2 linked regions of the Homo sapiens genome follow. The protein of the gene in region 2 interacts with the protein of the main gene of each other region in a pairwise test. Each region holds a gene or a part of one and is shown on either strand. Other genes may lie near its edges.

Evidence for each region.
Region 1: the proteins of CERCAM (region 2) and SFT2D1 interact in binary tests that used the Homo sapiens proteins (3 or more experiments, as listed by UniProt).

What each region holds. Positions count from the first base shown.
Region 1 is NC_000006.12:166,332,531-166,339,565, forward strand, and holds part of SFT2D1 (vesicle transport protein SFT2A), read right to left. Parts: intron 1-7,035. UniProt on the Homo sapiens protein: May be involved in fusion of retrograde transport vesicles derived from an endocytic compartment with the Golgi complex.
Region 2 is NC_000009.12:128,430,857-128,437,847, forward strand, and holds the end of CERCAM (inactive glycosyltransferase 25 family member 3 isoform a precursor), read left to right. Parts: intron 1-314; coding exon 315-447; intron 448-3,245; coding exon 3,246-3,373; intron 3,374-3,553; coding exon 3,554-3,757; intron 3,758-4,796; coding exon 4,797-5,049; intron 5,050-5,992; 3' UTR 5,993-6,491; downstream 6,492-6,991. UniProt on the Homo sapiens protein: Probable cell adhesion protein involved in leukocyte transmigration across the blood-brain barrier. Does not express any beta-galactosyltransferase activity in vitro.

The DNA.
Region 1 (7,035 bases), on a different chromosome or scaffold from region 2:
GGCATGAGCCACGAGCCACTGCACCCAGCCTGCTTATCATAAGCATTTATGTGCTGCTTTCTTTTACCACCAATCAGGAGCAATCCCACCAAAACCAGCAACTTTGTTAATCTCTTAGTCTTAGAAAAGAAATAAAATTGCCACCTCTTCCTCTCCCAAAACCACCATCCATCATTTTACTTATCTGCTACCAGAGGAAGAGGAAGCCAAGAGAATACAGGCCCTTGAGGAGGGGCTGCTCCCCTATTCCCGCCACAGTAAGCACAGCACTGCTTGCAACTAGAACTTCATTCATTAATTTTTTACAAAAGCAGGTGAGAAACATAATAGAGGAAAATGTAGTCCTAGCAGCAACAACATGAAGGCTGAATGAGTGGCTCCCACAGCACAGCCGAAACCCACCCCTTTAAGTGACGGAGAAGCTGAGGAACAGCTCTAATCCACGGATCGCCAGGAGACAGCACAGCTGGAAGGACCTGAGCCTTGCCCCTGGGCTTCTGCCATCTAAACATAGGAAACACTTGTGGCTTTCCACTAATGATGACACTGAATCCAGTATTCCTCCCACTCCTTTTTCAAAATAGCAGTGGGTATAAAAAGTCAAAGTTGTGCAGACAAGTGAGAAAAAGAAACAGACATCCGCAGACCCTCAGGCCCATTCCAGGCAGAACCGCCCGCTCCCCACACCCGCTGCTGGGGTCCACACTTTCTCCTTCTCATTCAGGACTCTTGATCGCGGGGCCTATCCAGATCCTTGCAGCATGCGGCACGGGTTCCACGTGTGCGTGGGCAGCCTGGCCTTTCTGTGCAGCATCCCCTGATCTCCACTGGCCTTTCCCCTCCACTCCACTCAGTGACCCAGCCCAGGGCAGTCTTCCTGCTCGAAATTACACCATCGCCAAAATTCCGGCTGCCGCTCTCCGACCCGTTTCTTCTGGCAGCAGGCTGGTTCCTCGGCCCCACCGTGCTGACTCCTTGGCCTCCTGAACTCCTCATCCGGCCCTTCTCCGTTTTTTCAGCGGCTTCAACAGGACATTCAAATTCCCTTTCCGCTGCCTCCACCTGGTAAAATCCCACCGGAGTGCAGCTTTCCCTCCTCCTGCTCCAGGAGGTGCTGAGCTGAGCACTGCTGGGTGGAGTCAGGCACAGGGCAGGGGGGTCCTGAGCCAGTCCTCATCAGCCCCCCATGGCCTGCACATTGCTGCCTGGCAATCTAAGGCTTCTTGCTTTATCTCAACGTCCATTTTACTCTAAACCACTTCAAACCTCCACTTCCTGCCCCACACTTCCATTCTTAGCAGACAACTTCCCCTACTTCACACACAGAAACCCAAAGCCATCAGTGTGAACTCCCTTACCTTCCTGCTGCCACCAAACCACCAAACCACCAAACACACCAACTAAGAACACCCATGCTCTTGTCCTTTCCTGGTTCCCACAGAGCTGAGATCCACCTGTCCACCCTGCTTTACAGCCAACCCCTTACCTGCTCAGGGAATTGATGCTATTGGGCTTTTTCCTCTAGTGAACATGTTCTCACTCTCTGAAAATGCATCCATCAACTTTTAAACATGAAGTCCCTTCCATCTTAAACAGAAAGCTTACTTCACTTCACCTTCCAGCCTCTGTACACTCATACATCCATTCATCCATCCATCCATCCATCCACTAACTGGCTCAATAAATACTGAGTGCTGCTATGTGCCTGTTCTAAGTGCTGGGTAAGGGATCCAGCTCCTGGTTAAAAATCTATGTGCTGGCTGCTACACCAAAAATACCATAGGCCAGGCACTGTGGCTCACGCCTGTAATCCTGGCACTTTGGGAAGCTGAGGCAGGCGGATTGCTTGAACCCAGTTCAAGACCTGCCTGGGCAACATGGCGAGTCCTCCATCTCTACAAAAAATACAAATATTAGCCAGGTATGGGGGCACACACATGTAGTGCCAGCTACTTGGGAGGCCGAGGTGGGAGGATCACCTGAGCCCGGGAGTCAGAGGTTGCAGTGAGCCGAGATCACACCACTGCACTCCAGTGTAAGTCAGAGTCTCCCAAAGAGCCTAAACAGCTGTGGAAGCTCCTCACTGGAGGGCCGACTGTGGAATCTCGGCACTGGAGGGCTGAGCTTTGAAACAACTGATGAGAACCTGAGAAGCCAATCTGAGCGATGGGGAACGCTCGTGGACTGTGTAGTCATGAGATCCAAGCACCAAGCACTCTGGGGCTTTGGGTTTGTCCTGTATGCCGCTGTGAAGGAGGTGGATGCGCCATGAATGCAAAGCCACACAAGGTGGATGAAGAGTTGTGGAACCAAAGGGCTGTCTCGAGAAGATTCTCAAAGACGAGGTGCCCAACTGTGAAAAAGATATTTGCTGGCGGCATTAAAGAAGACATTGAAGAACATCGCCTAAGAGATCTTGAACAGTATGGAAAAACTGAAGTGACTGAAATCATGACTGACAGAGGTAGTGCCAAGAAAAGGGGCTATGCCTTCGTGCCTCTGACAACCACGACGCTGTGGACAAGACTGTCACTCAGAAATACCATACTGTGAATGGCCAAAACTGTGAAGTTAGGGAAGTCCTGTGAAAGCAAGAGATGGCTAGTGCTTTATCCAGCCAAAGAGGTCGAAGTGCTTCTGGAAACTTTGGTGGTGGTTGTGGAGGTGGTTTTGGTGGGAATGACAACTTCGGTCATGGAGGAAATTTCAGTGGTCATGATGGCTTTGGTGGCAGCTGTCCACAGCGGTGGCGGTGGATACAGTGGCAGCAGGGATGGCTGTAATGGATTTGGTAATGATGGAATCAATTCTGGAGGTGGCAGAAGCTCCAATGATTTTGGCAATTACAACAATCAGCCTTCAAATTTTGGACCCATAAAGGGAGGAAACTTTGGAGGCAGAAGCTCTGGCCCTTATGGTGGTGGAGAACAATACTTTGCCAAATTTTACTTTACTTTACAAAACCAAGGTGGCTACGGTGGTTCCAGTAGCAACAGTAGCCATGGCACTGGCAGAAGATTTTAACCCATTTATGCCTGAGGTTGCACTTTTTGAATTTGAAAAATCAGACCTTGGCGATGACCTTGAACAGGAGAACATAAATAACTCCCACATGCTTAGCGTTCCAATAATGGAATACCAGGCATAAATGGGTTCACAAAACCAAGGTGGCTATGGTGGTTCTAGTAGCAGCAGTAGCCATGGCACTGGCAGAAGATTTTAATCACTGCCAGGAAACAAAGTTTAGCCGGAAAGGAGAGCCAGAGAAGCGATAGGGAAGCTACAGGTTACAAGAGATTTGTGAACTCAGTCAGCCAAGCACAGTGGTGGCAGAGCCCAGCTGCTACAAAGAAGATATGTTTTAGACAATACTCACGTGTATGAGCAAAAAACTCCAGGACTGTATTTGTGACTAATTTTATTAACAGGTTATTTTCGTTTCTGTTCTGTGGAAAGTACCAAGCATTCCAACAAAGGGTTTTAATGTAATTTTTTTCTTTTGCACTCATGCTGTTGATTGCTAAATGTAATAGTCTGATCATGAGACTGAATAAATGTGTCCTTTTAAAAAACGTGCTGTGTAAAGTTAGTCTCCTCGGAAGCCATCTTGGTAAACTCCCCCAAGAGTGTGAAGTCAGAATTCCTTCAGGGTGATGCCAGGTTCTACTTGGAACTTATTTACACTCTGCTCGGGTGGAGAAGCCACTGTCTTCAGTGAGCTCGGTGTAGCTGAACTGACAGTTACTGTTGTGACCTGAAGTTCACCACCAAAGGGGATCACCCAAGCAAAGTCACAGAATTATTAGTTATAAAAATGATTGTTGGCACATCCCATGCAATATATCTAAACTGAATAATGGTACCAGATAACATTATAGATGGGAATGAAGCTTGTGTATCATCCATAATTGTATGTAGCTAATAAACTATTTAATTCTCTTAAAAAAACACTGTAGACTGGGTAGCTTATAAACAACAGACACTTATTTCTCTCAGTTCTAGAGACTGGAAGTCCATGATCAAGGCGCCAGCAGATTCGGCGTCTGGTGAGGCATCTCTGGTTCACAGATGACACCTTCTGAGTCCTCACACGATGGAAAGGGCAATGGATCCTTCTTTTCCTCAACTTCCCAGGCTCAAGCAATCCTCCCACCGCAGCCTCCCATGTAGCTGGGACCACAGGCACACACCATCACGCTCAACTAATTTTTTAATTTTTTGTAGAAGCGGGGTCTCGCCATGTTGCCCAGACTGGTCTTGAACTCCTGGGCCCAAGCAATCCTCCTGCCTCAGGCTTCCAAAGTGCTGGGATTATAGGCATGAGCCACTGCATGTGGCCTGGGGCCTCTTTTTTAATAGGGCATGAAACCCATTCCTAATCACATCCCAAAGGCACCTCCTCCTCATACCATCACATTGGGGATTAAGTTTCAACATAGGAATTCTGGGGGGGACACAGACATTCAGACCACAGCACTGTGAGTGATTTTGGGGCTGGCCACAGGCAATTACACAGGCTCTAGCAGGCAGGCCTCCCGGGGAAAGCTCCCTCTGCACACCAGACTTGGAGCACAGCCCAGGCAGTGTAGCCCCTGGGGAGGTGCAGTCAAGGTCCCAGGCCCTTCGGCCCACCACACTTTTTCATGTAGTTCCCTTCCTAGCCCAGTGCCTTATTTCCCAGGAATCCTTATCTGAGGCTGTAGGAGTAGACGGGACCCCCAGCTGGCACACGCCTGGCACAGTGGTTGGGAAGCTCACCTTGACCATTCTAGCTTCAGCCCTCCCCTGGCTGAAACCCTGCAGACACAAGTCACTTCCGTGTCCTTAATTCCAAGGAACATTTTTGAAGCATCAGTATCCTTTCCAACTCAACAGCACAGGACACTTTGGCACTCCCTCCTGCTTACAATGTTCTCTTCAACTCCCATGTCCCACCGGCTCTCCTGACTGTCCTCCCGCCTCGCCAGCTGCTCCTGCTTGGGGTCTCCTCTGCCGCCTTAGCTCCTTCTACCTGGAAAGACAGCTTCCTCCTTGTGTTTCTCTACACTCCCCCTAACCACCTCACCCACACCTACCATGGGAACAGTGAGGGAAATAGATAAGGTAGGTATACTTACAATCTTCTAAGTGGGAAAGGCAGAGAGAGCTTAAATTGTTTATTAGGCATTTTTCTCTTATTACCATCTTCCACGCGGTGATCTTTGAAGTGAAACATGATAAATTAATGCCATTTGTAAATATGAAATAACTCAGTCAACAAGCAAATGACTTGTCTCAACCTGTGTGCTATGGTCTGAGTGTTTGCTGAAATCCTCGACCCCATGGTGATGGTACTGGAAGATGGCCCTTCAGGAGATGATCAGGTCATGGGGATGGAGTCCTCATGAATGGGATCCACGCCCTAATAAGACGAGAAAGAGACTAAAGCTCTCTGCTCTCTGCCATGTCAAGATATAACCAGAGGCAACAGTGTGACACCAGGAAGGGGGAGGCCTCACCAAGAACCCATGAGTGCACCTTGATCTCTGACTTCCGGCCTCAAAACCCGTAAGAAATAAATTTCTGTTGTTTATAAATCACAAAGTCTAAGGTATTTTATTACAGCAGGCTGAATGGACTAAGACATCTCGCAAATTGTCAGCAGGGGTTAGTAGGACTCCCACAAGAGAACTCTGTAGAATGTTCCGGCATTATGTTCTTGTCATCTAACTCCCAACAATTACCTTATGCCAATGCCCTCAGCTCTCCTTGGTAGTTACCCAAATCCAAACAACTCACTCATCTGTTTGTTCAACAAGTAGTTATGAACAGCTATTAGACACCAGGTACTTGGTAGGTTCTACATACACAGAAAGGAATAAGACAGCACCTAGCGTACTTACATTCAGATGGGGGAAAATGGGCAATAAACTAATGAGGCAGGTTCTACTAAGGACATAAATAGGGGCAGAGTAACTGGGTCAGGAAGAGCCTCTCTAAAGAGGTGACCAAGTGAAGACATCAGGAAGTGACCAATCCAACTCTGAAAAGAGCCAGGAAGGGGCATTCCTGAAAAAAGAAATGCAACTGCCAGGTCTCCCAGGCAGAAGAAAATGGCTCCAACTGAGGAGGAGAAAGAGGGCAGGGCAAGGCAAGCACTGGGGAGAGGGTGGGGAGGCGGGCCGACAAGCAGTGCAGGGCTGAGAGGCCAAGGGAGGGATCTGGATTTTACTCAAGTGCTGCAGGAAGTCAATGAAGGATGTGATCAGGGGAGGAATATGATCAACTCTCTTAAGATCTGGCTCAATATCTCTCCCTCCTTGACTTCTTCCCAGGCATCTCGAAGGAGAGGTCCCAGAACTCTGGCTACCGTGCCTCTCCCCGGGGCTCAAAGCGCCTGCATAGGAGGATGATGCAGCCTGGATGTCAGGATGCTCCCCTATGACCTTCACTGCCTCGCCCAACTCCTCAACTGGCCTAGAACCATCCCTGTCAAGACCCAATTCCAATGTGCCCGCCATCCTGGTTACGTCTTGCTGCACAAGACGTGCAACACTCTCAGGTCATCCCTCACCCCATTCAGGTCTGTGCGCCTTTAATCCCATCTCATCTCCTACCCATCTCCAAAAACCAACAGCAAACCTCCCTATGTCCTCACCCTCTTCTCTGATGATCCTCTCACCTTCCGGCTAGGTTTGAAATTTAGTCTCCAGGACCAGGGCTCTCCCCTGTGAATCCTGTACCACTTGGACAGGCAGTGAGCTAGGTGTCTGCCCTCCTCACTGCCACTTCCTGCCCCTTCCTCCTCCCTAGAGAAACCTGCTTTCCAAGTCACTCCTCAATAGCCCCCTAGCAACAATTCCCTCTTGCCTGCACCATAATTTTCCCCTTTCCTGGACCATTCCCAATGCACAGAAACATCCAGTATTTTCCTTGGGAAAATGACATGTTCCCCGACCCCACTGCATCCTTCAACTACCACCCACTTCTTTGCTCCACAGGAAAAATCACTGAGATGGCCATACCATCTCCATCTTCTTTCTATTCTCCCCTGAC
Region 2 (6,991 bases):
AAAAAAAAAAAAACATTAGCTGGGCACCTGTAATCTCAGCTACTTGTGAGGCTGAGGCAGGAAAATCACTTGAACCTGGGAGGTAGAGGTTTCAGTGAGCTGAGATGGTGCCACTGCACTCCAGCCTGGGCAACAGGGGCTCCAGTTCCCCAGGTCCAGTCCCTTGACAGCTTCAGGTCACACAAAGGAGTTACAAGGCAGAAACCTTCTTCAAACCCGACTCCAGTGTGACTGTCCCCAACATGCACAGGCCTGGCCCCTCTGGAGGGGTCTCTGGCAGGCACCCCTCACCCCGCCACACCTGTGTCCCTCAGGATGCTCAACAGCAGTGCCATCAGGAACCTCGGCGTAGACCTGCTCCCGGGCTACCAGGACCCTTACTCGGGCCGCACTCTGACCAAGGGCGAGGTGGGCTGCTTCCTCAGCCATTACTCCATCTGGGAAGAGGTGAGGGTGCCTGCTTCCTCCATCCACAGCCTTCGGGGAGAACGGGGCCAGTTTGTTCTATTCACTGCTCTGTGAACGAGTGAGTGAATGAAGACATTCATCAAAACCTGGCCAGCAGCTTTCAATCTCCTCTGTGTTCAACACCCCAGTGGGCACCACTAAGCGGTGCTTGTTTTCATTCTGCAGTCTCTCTTGAGCATCTACTATGTGCTAGGAGATATTCTGCTCTGAGAACACAGAGGAGGACAGGAACAATGCATGTCTGCTCCTTCCTGCAATAAAGGGATCCCCCTGGGGCTCAGGGACCAGAGCGGGATTATGGAAATCAAAACCAAGCTTGCAGTGGAGGGGAGAGGTATGGGCCACTTTGAGAGGTGCCTCGTGTGGGAGGGGGTCAGAATGGACCTCACCATTGAGGGGCCGGGAGAAGAGGCTTCTAGGCAGAAGAGAACAGTGGGTGCCAAGGCCCTGAGGCAGGAAGGTGTTTAGGAGCAGAAAGAAGGAAGCCTGGGGCTTAGCATGTGCTCAGTACTTGGCCAAGAAGCCTCGGCCCAGGGGCTGGGAGTGTGAGCGCAGGAAAGAGGTTGCTGGACACGGCAGGAGAGAATGGGAACTGGGCCCTCCAAGGGCAGCCCTTCCAGGAGATGGGACATGGATTCCTTGTTTGTGTTCTCTGCTATAGCCAAATATATGTGCACGTGTATGTGAGCATTATGGGTTTTTGTTTTGTTTTGTTTTCTGAGATGGAGTATTGCTCTGTCACCCAGACTGGAGTGCAGTGGCACAATCTTGGCTCATTGCAACCTCTGCCTCCTGGGTTGAAGCGGTTCTCCTGTCTCAGCCTCCCAAGTATCTGGGATTACAGGCATGTGCCACCACACCTGGCTAATTTTTCTATTTTTAGTAGACAGGGGGTTTCGCCATATTGGTCAGGCTGGTCTCGAACTTCCAACCTCAGGTGATCTGCCCACCTCGGCCTCCCAAAGTGCTGGAATTACAGGCTTGAGTCACCATGCCCAGCCTATGTTGGCTTTTTTACCGTCCCTGAACAAATTGGAGGATGACATGGTTCACTACTTTTTTTTTTTTTTTTTTTTTTGAGACAGGGTATTGCTCTGGCACCCAGGCGGGAGTGCAGTGGCGTGATCTTGGCTCACTGCAGCCTGGACCTCCCGGGCTCAAGCAATTATCCCACCTCAGCACCCCCGAGGAGCTGAAACTACAGGCGCGCACCACCACACCCAGCTAAATTTTGTATTTTTTGTAGAGACAGGGTTTCGCCATGTTGGCCAGGCTGATCTCAAACTCCTGAGCTCAAGTGATTCCACCCACCTCAGCCTCCAAAAGTGCTGGAATTACAGGCATGAGCCACCGCTCCTGGCTTCACTACTTTCTGAGCTGATTTCCTTTTCACAGAAGTTATCAAAAGTAGTTTTCCAAAAGTTATTCTAAAGTAACTTTTCCAAAAGTTATCAAAAGTACTTTTTCTTTTGGATATTCGGGGCTGGGGTCTTCCCACCCCCCACCCAGCCCAGCTTCCTTTAGAAAATAGCAGGAGGCCAGGCCAGGTGCGGTGGCTCACGCCTGTAATCCCAGCTGAGGCAGACAGATCACGAGGTCAGGAGTTCAAGACCAGCCTGGCCAACGTGGTGAAACCCCGTCTCTACTAAAAATACAAAAATTAGCCCGGCGTTGGCCGGGCGCCGTGGCTCACGCCTGTAATCCCAGCACTTTGGGAGGCCGAGGCGGGTGGATCACGAGGTCAGGAGATCGAGACCATCCTGGCTAACACGGTGAAACCCTGTCTCTACTAAAAATACAAAAAAATTAGCCAGGCGTGGTGGCGGCGCCTGTAGTCCCAGCTACTCGGGAGGCTGAGGCAGGAGAATGGCGTGAACCCAGGAGGCGGAGCATGCAGTGAGCCGAGATTGTGCCACTGCACTCCAGCCCGGGCGACAGAGCAAAACTCCGTCTCAAAAAAAAAAAAAAAAAAAAAAATTAGCCCGGTGTGGTGGTGGGCACCTGTAATCCCAGCTACTTGGGAGGCTGAGGCAGGAGAATCACTTGAACCCGGGAGGCAGAGGTTGCAGTGAGCCAAGACCATCTTTTGATGGGAACTGCAAGCCACTTCCCCGCCCCCAGAGAGTTGGGCTTCTGGGCCCAGCCACCATCTGTCATGCTTGCACTCAGGCAGCTGGAGGAGTGGGAGGGGAGATGGCTCCTGGTCTTGGCCATGGCTGCTTTGGCCTCCACCGTTCCTGCTCCTCTTCCATGCAGCCCCCTGACTTGGGGGGCCATTTCACTCCAGTCTGGGCAACAAGAGTGAAACTTCGTCTCAAAAAAAAAGGAAAATTGCAGGAGGCCAAAGTGACAAGCTGGGCCCTGGTGTTCAGCAGATGCGGGTTCATATCCCAGCTCTGCCACTTCCTGGCTGTGTGTCCTTGGACAGGCAGTTTCCCATCCCTGCATGTCCACCTCCTTCCTGCGATTGAGGATCATCATCTCCTGCCTCCTGAGGGCCCCTGCAGATACGCAGTGGCACAGCCCTGGGGCACAGTAGCACTCAGGGAATGTAGCAAGGGCCACGGTTACCATCATGATTCTATCTGGAGATCCTCAAATGCCAGAGCGAGGTTGGGATTTCCGGTCCCAGGCAGTGGGGCCCCCAGCAGGCTTTGGGGCAACTGCATGATGTGGCCAGGCCAACTGAGGCCAGGCAGAGGCTGTGAGCTTCAGCGTGGAGGGAGGGGGGTTGTTTAACTCCGAAGAGCCATCTCCCACCCCATTGTATGCCACAGGTGGTTGCCAGGGGCCTGGCCCGGGTCCTGGTGTTTGAGGATGACGTGCGCTTTGAGAGCAACTTCAGGGGGCGGCTGGAGCGGCTGATGGAGGATGTGGAGGCAGAGAAACTGTCTTGGGACCTGATGTAGGCAGCCTGCACCCTCAGGGACAAGGGGGCAGGGTGGGCCTCCGGAGTCTGCCTTTTCCTGCTTGGGACCCTGGCCGGCCCATCCCCTGAGAGCCTGGCCCTGTAGGAGCGGGTGTGGGAGGGTCCCATGACACCCAGGACCTAAGTGACTCCTGGGCCCCTTGGTGTCACTTACAGCTACCTCGGACGGAAGCAGGTGAACCCTGAGAAGGAGACGGCCGTGGAGGGGCTGCCGGGCCTGGTGGTGGCTGGGTACTCCTACTGGACGCTGGCCTATGCCCTGCGTCTGGCGGGTGCCCGCAAGCTGCTGGCCTCACAGCCTCTGCGCCGCATGCTGCCCGTGGACGAGTTCCTGCCCATCATGTTCGACCAGCACCCCAAGTGAGGCTCTGATGGGGGCCGGGCATGGCAGGGCAGAGGCGTCCCCTCCAGGAACTCACCTCAGTCAGCAGGAAGTCCCCTCACCTGGCAGATGGGGAGACTGGGACTGGCAAGGCCAAGCCACTTGGCCCAGGTCACCAAGGAGTGGCTCAGCCTAGCCTTAGAGTCAGTCCATTCTCGGTGTGTACTTTGCACAGTGCATGCAGGCTTTTTTTTGAAATGGAGTCTTGCTCTGTTGCCCAGGCTAGAATGCAGTGGCATGATTTTGACTCACTGCACCTTCTGCCTCCCAGGTTCAAGCAATTCTGCTGCCTCAGCCTCCTGAGTAGCTGGGATTACAGGGAAGTGCCACCACACCCTGCTAATTTTTATTTATTTATTTATTTATTTATTTATTTTTGAGATGGAGTTTTGCACTGTCACCCAGTGCGGTGCAGTGGCGCAATCTTGGCTCACTGCAACCTCCGCCTCCCAGGTTCAACTGATTTTCCTGCCTCAGCCTCCTGAGTAGCTGGGATTACAGGTGCCTGCCACCACACCAAGCTAACTTTTTTGTATTTTTAGTAGAGACAGGGTTTCTCCATGTTGGCCAGGCTGGTGTCGAACTCCTTGACCTCAAGTGATCTGCCTGCCTGGGCCTCCCAAAGTGCCGGGATTACAGGCATGAGCCACTGTACCCAGCCTCAATTTTTGTGTTTTTAGTAGAGATGGGGTTTTGCCATGTTGGTCAGGCTAGTCTTGAACTCCCGACTTCAGGTGATCCGCCCGTCTCGGCTTCCCAAAGTGCTGGGATTATAGGCATGAGCCACTGCGCTCGGCTGCATGCAGTTTTTAATCAAATGACTTCCTTGTTCTCAGCCTCTGTTTCCTCATCTGGAAAATGGAGGTAGTAGAAGTCCCACTGCTCAGGGCCGCTGTGAGGACTAGATGGCGGGGAGTGAGGTGCTTTGGGCAGGCAAGGTGCCTGGCTCCGGGCAGGCATGTGTCCGGGGAGTAGGGGCCCGCCTCAATCCCCCTGAGCTATCCTCTCACCTTACAGCGAGCAGTACAAGGCACACTTCTGGCCACGGGACCTGGTGGCCTTCTCCGCCCAGCCCCTGCTCGCTGCCCCTACCCACTATGCCGGGGACGCCGAGTGGCTCAGTGACACGGAGACATCCTCTCCATGGGATGATGACAGCGGCCGCCTCATCAGCTGGAGCGGCTCCCAAAAGACCCTGCGCAGCCCCCGCCTGGACCTGACTGGCAGCAGCGGGCACAGCCTCCAACCCCAGCCCCGAGATGAGCTCTAGGTGAGGCCAGGGCGGGAAGAGGCCCCAGCCCCGTAGACCTTGGCTTGCTCTCCCCTTTGATGGCATAACTGTGTCTGGGGCTGTTTTCCCCTTCTCAGCCTTCTCTCTCCCTCTCCATCTCTAGCTTTGCCTTTATGTTTGTTGTTGTTGTTGTTTGTTTGTTTTTTTTAGACGGAGTCTCGCTCTGTCGCCCAGGCTGGAGTGCAGTGGCGTGATTTTGGCTCACTGCAACCTCTGCCTCTCGGGCTCAAGAGATTCTCCTGCCTCAGCCTCCCCAGTAACTGGGATTACAGGCACCCACCACAAGGCCTGGCTAATTTTTCTATTTTTATTTTTATTTATTTATTTATTTTGAGATGGAGTCTTGCTCTTTTGCCCAGGCTGGAGTGCAGTGGCATGATCTCAGCTCACTGCAACCTCTGCCTCCCGCGTCCCGGATTCAAGCGATTCTCCTGTCTCAGCCTCCCGAGTAGTTGGGACTACAGGCGCCCACCACCACGTCCGGCTAAATTTTGTATTTTTAGTAGAGACAGGGTTTCACCATGTTGGCCAGGCTGGTCTTGAACTCCTGACCTGAGGTGATCTGCCCGCCTCAGCTTCCCAATGTGCTGGGATTACAGGCGTGAGCCACCGCGCCTGGCCTTTTGTATTTTTAGTAGAGACAGGGTGTCATCATGTTGGCCAGGCTGGTTTTCAACTCCTGACCTCAAATGATCCAGCCGTCTCGGTCTCCCAAAGTGCTGGGGATTACAGGCGTGAGCCACTGTGCCTGGCCTCTGTGTCTGTCTATAATTGTACCTTCAGCTGTCTCCGCATCCCTCTCTAGCTTTTTCCCTCTCTGTCTGTCTCTGCCCCTGTTTTCCTATATCTGTCAGTGTCTGTCTGTCTCTGATTCTGTCTGACTCTAATTCTCTTTCTCTTCCTGCTCCTCCTGTCCCACCAGGTCCAGGTGATGACTGCAAAGCAGTGTCCAGGAGCAGGCCACTACTGCCCAGAGAGCAGAGGAGGAGGTTGTTGGCAGGGACTGCAGATCCTGTCAGACCTGGCCACCACCTTGGGCATGGCCACTCTGCCCTCTGGACCTGTCTTTCATCGGGAGAAACCACTCAGAGATGGATCCCATTCCCTAAAGGTCTCACAGCAAAGGAGCAGGACTCCCAGGCCCCTGTACCCTGCCTGGCCTGATTCAGGGCCTTGTGGCCCCCAGCTTCTGTTTCAAGCTGGGCAGACCCCAGGATCCCTTCCCTCCCTAAGGACTCAGCTGAGGGGCCCCTCTGCCCCCTTCTACCTCCACCTCAGCACCCTCCCCCAGCTTGATGTTTGGGTCTCCCCAGCACCCTCCTCCCTGGCCGGTGCAAAGTACAGGGAGGTAAAGCAGGACCCTTGCAGACATGTTGCCCAGCACACAGTAGGCCCTCAATAAAAGCCATTTGCACTTTAAATATATATATGTATGTATATATATGTATATATATATATATATATATATGTATGTATGTGTATGTGTATATATATATATATATATATATATATATATGTATGTATGTATGTATGTATATATATATTTTTTGACACAGGGTCTCCCTCTGTTGCCCAGGCTGAAGTGCAATGGCGCAAACCCAGCTCACTGCAGCCTCAACCTCCTGGGCTCAGGCAATCTTCCTGCTTCAGCCTCCCATGTAGCTGGACCACAGGCACATGCCACCATGCCTGGCCACATTTTTTTTTGTAGAGACTGGGTTTTGCATGTTGCCCAGGCTGGTCTCAAACTCCTGGGCTCAAACAATCTATCCACCTCGGCCTCCCACAGTGCTGGGATGAGAGGCGTGAGCCACTGCACCCTGCCACTTTATATATATACATATATATACACGTATATACGTATATATACACGTATATATACATATATACGTGTATATACACGTATATACACATACACGTA